Linked DNA regions of Homo sapiens: region 1 is linked to region 2. Evidence: fine-mapped expression QTL. A gene starts in region 2. The other region holds a variant in brackets. All regions are shown on one strand. Distances are from middle to middle.

Region 1 (2,917 bases), 24 kb after region 2:
CTGTGCTGTCTCAGTAAATGACAACTTTATTCTTCCAGTTGCTCTGGTCAAAACCTCGGAGTCATCCTAGATGATCCACTTTCCCTGGCACTCCATGTAGGGCAAAACCTACAGTGGTTTCTTTTTTAAAATAGCTCTACAGGCCGGGCGCAGTGGCTCAAGCCTGTAATCTCAGCACTTTGGGAGGCCGAGCCAGGTGGATCACGAGGTCAGGAGATTGAGACCATCCCGGCTAACACGGTGAAACCCTGTCTCTACTAAAAATACAAAAAATCAGCCGGGCATGGTGGCAGGCACCTGTAGTCCCAGCTACTCGGGAGGCTGAGGCAGCAGAATGGCGTGAACCCGGGAGGCGGAGGTTGCAGAGCCAAGATTGCGCCACTGTACTCCAACCTGGGTGACAGAGCGAGACTCCATCTCAAAAAAAAAAAAAAGCTCTAGCCTGTAGAATGCAGTTTCCTCCCCTATTCTCACAACGTGGTTTCAGTCTTAGTCTGCGGCATTATTGAGCATTTTCATCTTTTCCTATGTATTAATTAGCATTTTAATAAAATATTGGAAAGGGCTGCCCAGGGGCTGTTAGCCAGATGCCATTTAAACCTGAAAGTCAAGAAAATGACTTTTATTTACAACATATTTATCATGGTCGTTAATGTAAACTGATCAGAGGCAGCAGAGCCAACACTGCATTAATTCATCAGTACTCCAAGTACAGGCAGATAGATATAGGCTGGAGAAAATAATACGCAATTGATGCCCATGCCAACTCCTTGGAGTACTGATCACACTCCATTTGGCTACTTCGTAAGGGCATCCAGGTATTTTACCTGTGGTGGCATGAACTGCTAAGACAGTACCAAAACCTTATACCAGGAAGCATTTTTTTTTAATGCTCAGTCTAGGGATGGTGTAATTGCAGCAATTAAGAGTTGAGAGTATCTTTGAAATCTCCTGTATATTTACTGGCAAAAAAGAATTGAAAAAACCATGTGTAAATCCTAAATACAGTGTCAGAGCAACCTTGAGAGAAGTAAGGAGCCCAGGTTATCAACCTTTAGCCTGGTCACTTTTGGCCACTCCCAGGCTGAGGGAACACCTGCCCCAGACTACTCTCTTCCTCCAAGTATTACAGGTGCCATCTGTGGAGTCCAGACTCCCCAACTGTACCATCTTCAGTGAGACCAACAGGGCCCTGAGGCCATTTTGCCACGTTCTTGCCTACAAGGTTCTGTCCTGGCCCCTCCTCAGACCCTGTCTCTGAAGCTGATGAGCCTGAACTTGAAGGTTAGACATCCACGCTCTGAGAGTGTTGGTCTTTGGAAATTACTTAACTGCCTCAGGCCTTATTACTCAGAAAAACGGGGTGGCAATGTCTATATTCAGGGTTGAGGAGAAAATGAGAGATTGCAGTGAAAGCATCTAGCACAGTGTATTGCCCACAGCAGAGGATTTGAATAGGCTCACTTCCCTTTTCTTCTGTTTGTTGCCCCAAAGGACACAGCTAGCTTCCCCAAAGTTAAGGGGCCCTCCCCGAGGCCCTACTGCTCCCTCTACCACAGTCGAGTGGACCAGCTCATTTGCATTCTTTCCTGATACACCACAATGTCAGCTTTGCTGTTGGTGATTTTACAGGAAGCTTTCCTTGCCCCATGTGTAA[C/T]CCTTCTATAGCCTGCAACCCAATGTCCCTGGCCTGTCTTTCACCTTGAGGTGAGCTCATGCTCCTCCAGCCTTTGTCTCCCATCTTTTGTGCATGAAACAGCATGGTGGCCTTAACTCTAGTGTCTAGAAACCTTCCCATGGACTCCTCACTTCTCTTCCCTCTTCAGGAGAAGAATGAGATGAAGATTTGTAGCCTGAGGCCTCATGCACACAGGTATCCCCAGGAATGCCTAAGCAGCATACGCAGATTTAAACCTATCTTGGGGCTGAAGCAGGACCTAAAGTTATATGTACTTTTTCGTCAACACAGTTTTGCACAGAAGCAGAATATGAAGGATGCAGAGTTGAGGAGGCAAGAGGTGTCATTCTGCTCTGTGATGAACCTGAGTGGGCCCTTCAAAATACATGGCTTCTGGCTTTAGTGGCATGTGCTGGGTAAATTCAGCTGCTGCTATTCAGATGGCACAAAATATTACTAAAGTACTAAAGGCTTGTTGGGGTGAAATTAATGCAGCAAGAAAAATAGTGATTAAGTTTTCACTGGTAAAATTTTGACATTTGGCTGAGTAGGAGATAACTTGAAGTTGTAGGAGTAGCTATAGTTAGCAGTGCACTGGTATTTGTGGACTATATTTAAACATGTCTAAAAAAGGATGCACTTCTTTGGTATTTATGACTCATCTTTATAGGATGAATCATTTGCATGAATTAAATTTATCTCTTAAATCTAAAACCACAATTTGCTATTTTTTTCCTAATAAAAGAATAGTTTCTTAGACCATTTGTGCTGCTATAACAGAATACCATAGAGTGGGATATTTAAAAAGAACAAAAATTTGGCAGGGCGCTGTGGCTCATGCCTATAATCCCAACACTTTGGGAGGCTGAGGCAGGCGGATCACAAGGTCAGGAGATCGAGACCATCCTGGCTAACACAGTGAAACCCCGTCTCTACTAAAAATACAAAAAATTAGCCGGGCGTGGTGGTGGGCACCTGTAGTCCCAGCTACTTGGGAGGTTGAGGCAGGAGAATGGCATGAACCCGGGAGGCGAAGCTTGCAGTGAGCCGAGATTGTGCCACTGCACTCCAGCCTGGGCGACAGAGCGAGACTCTGTCTCAAAATAATAATAATACTAATAATAATAAAATAAAAAAATAAATAAAAAGAACAAAAATTTATTTCTCACAGTTCTGGAGGCTGAGAATTCCAAGACAAGGCATGAGCATTTGGTCTGATGAGGGCCTTCTTACCATGTC
Region 2 (2,917 bases):
TGAGACTGTCGTCAAGAGTGTGGGACAGGAAGAGAGGGAGAGTCTTGGCCAGATCCAAGAAAGGAGCCCTCAGAAGAGGAGGGGAGTCAGAGGCAAGGAAGGGGCTGAGGCAGCCAGCCCAGCTGAGTGGACCCCAGGAGAGGTATCAAGGGGTGGTGTGGGGTGGGGAGGGGCCAGTGTCAGAAAGTGGATGGGGAGCGGCCTGACTCTGCTTTTGTCCTGTGGCCTTCTGGCCAAAGGCAGGGAAAGGTGGCCAAACACTGAGACCAAGAACAAAGAAAGAAAACTGCTGGTGGACTTCTTCCACCATGAGCAGGCCACCAAGCCCGCAGCACTGCACTGCAGCCCCCAGCTCTGTCCTGGGGTTGGGGGAGGTGAGGAGGGGCAAGGTGGGGAGCACACAGAGCACCCGCTGTCCTCGGAACACCACAGCGACTAGAGGTAAGGGAGCACCGGATGTGGCTGGGATGTGGGCAGCAAGGGGCCAGAGGGGCCTTGAAGGGGTCACAGACCATTTAATGAAGGTGTATTGAAGGCCACCATGGGCCAGGCCCTAGTTAGGGATGGATCAGAATTATATAGCATATGCCAGGGGTCAGGCAGGTAATGAAGTGATCGGAAGGTGATGAGGCAGTGGCAGTTGAGATTCACGTTGCAGTCGCCCCAAGCTGGCCAGGCCAGGGAGCAGAAGCATGGCTGGATGCCGGAGCCCACCAGGCTCCCCACTGCAGGGCAAGAGTGGCAGGGGGAGAGACTGTGAAAGGAGCATAGGCCAGGTCCTGGGTGAAAGCTGTGTCCTCAGCCTTGACTGATGGGTATAGGGAGCCACTAAATGCCTTGGGGCAGAGAGGTGAGGAAAAAAATATTTACCGAGCATCTACAAGGTGCAAGGTACTCACTAGATGCCTTCAGTACCAAAGCTTCTCAAACTTAGTATGCATATCACTCTTCTAAGAATTTCATTAAAATGCAGATTCTAATTCAGCAGATATAGGGCAGGGCTTGAGGTGCTGTCTTTAATAAGCTCCCAGTGCCTGGGACTGCACTTTGAGGAGAAGAGCTGTGTGTGCCCCAGTGTGGTCCAGTGAGTACTCTGGGCTCCCTCTCGTGGGCAGGGAAGCTGAGGGCCCCATGAGCTCTCCCAGCTTCCTGAAGGCTCCCCATTAATGAGAGCTGACTGTGCTGTGCTTTGCTGACTGCAGGGCCTGCTCCCTGCCCCCCACCTCCAGGTTGGGGTAAGTGGCACCTCTCTCCCTCCAGCTCCGCAGTCTTCCCTGAGGTTTAGATCTTCCAGGTTTATAAAGTCAGGCCCTCCTGTTGGCAGCTGGCCTCCACCCTGGAGTATCTGAGCTTGCCTGTGGCAGCATCTAAAGATAGTCTCCCTTACAGGAAACAAGATACTATTGGCTAACTCTGCAAATAAAATGCTCTTAGAGGGAAGGAAAGGGAAATACTCGTCTCTGGTAAAGTCTGAGCAGGACAGGGTGGCTGACTGGCAGATCCAGAGGTTCCCTTGGCAGTCCACGCCAGGTAGGTGCACAGGACTAGTTGGGTACCTGTGGGTGGGGTGGAGCAGTGGACAGCTAATAGGTTAATAATGCCTGTTTGCTTACGTGCAGACAATGGAAACCATTTTCCTGGGGATGTTGTAGCCTAAATATGTCCAAGGGGATGGAAGAGTGGGAGGCAAGGGGTGATCAGATCATTTATAATACACTCAACCTGGTGGAATAGTATTAGAAGCATTAGTAATTACATTTTAGAGACATGGAGAAAAGCTCATGATTTTAAACTAACTGAAAAAAGCATGAAAAATTGCATCTGGATGCTGTTGAGGAATTATTGCTAATTTTTTGAGATGAGAAATTGTATTAAAGTCTTTTTCAAAAAAGAGTCCTTAACTTTTAGAGATGCACACAAGTGTTTATGGGTGAAATTAAATAATTCAGTAGAGACATTAAGTGGGAAATAGAGGAAATATTGACCATGGGTTGCTAATAGTTGAAGCCAGGTGTTGGGTATAAGGAGGTTCTCGCTGCTTTTATTTGAAAAGTTGCTTTTTATTTGAAAATTTAATAATAAAGAGTTTTTAAATTTGTATCTGTATTTTAATATAAATATAAATGCACTTAATATAAATATAAAATATGTATAACATTTAGATAGAGAAAAGCTAAAAGATTACTGTGGTTGATTCTAGGAAACTGCATTGCAGATAGTTTCATGGGTTTTTTTTTCCTTTTTCTTCCACTTTTTGTACCATCTATGGGTTTTTGTTTGTTTTTTGTTTTTTGGGTTTTCTTTCTTGTTTGTGTTTTGTTTTTTGAGACGGAGTTTTGCTCTTGTTGCCTAAGCTGGAGTGCAATGGCACAGTCTCGGCTCACTGCAACCTCTGCCTCCTGGGTTCAAGTGATTCTCCTGCCTCAGCCTCCCAAGTAGCTGGGATTATAGGCATGTACCACCGCCCGGCTAATTTTGTATTTTTAGTAGAGGCGGGGTTTCTCCATTAATAAATTCCTGGCACAAATTTAGTGTTCAATTTTGATATATGTTGTTATAACCATTGTGAGGATACTCAGGCTCAGGTTTGTGTGGGTGGAAAACATGGTCTTCAGAAAGAAATTATGAGTGCAAGACAGGAGGAAATCCATCAGAGGCCCCAGCTGAGGACTGACCACGGCTTGTTATTTCTCTTGCCTTGCCTCTGGCAATCACAGCCTCACAGAGCCTGCAATCCTTGCTTTGTGAGTTTATAGCTCAGTCCAGAGAATGGCTAAGAAAGTTTAGGATTCTTTCAACACCCACTCCACAAAAAAAAAAAAAAAAAAGAAAAGAAAAAAAAATTAATTTTTGAAATACTTGAGGTAGAAAACTTGAGGCAGAAAAAAATTGAGCCAAAAAAAAAGGAAAATTGAAC

Evidence for each region.
Region 1: its variant is fine-mapped to the expression of CX3CR1 in whole blood (TOPMed, PIP above 0.99).

The regions. Positions count from the first base shown.
Region 1 is chr3:39,254,375-39,257,291 of GRCh38, reverse strand. All of the region lies in intron 2 of LOC102724104 (a long non-coding RNA gene), which reads right to left. Among named protein-coding and RNA genes, the nearest start is that of CX3CR1, 24 kb to the left of the region's middle. RefSeq lists a silencer at 272-321 and an enhancer at 1,103-1,342. The variant C/T (reference allele first, on the strand shown) is at 1,658.
Region 2 is chr3:39,278,567-39,281,483 of GRCh38, reverse strand. It overlaps CX3CR1 (C-X3-C motif chemokine receptor 1), which reads left to right and starts at 1,448. Exons shown (of 2, transcript NM_001337.4): 1 at 1,448-1,530.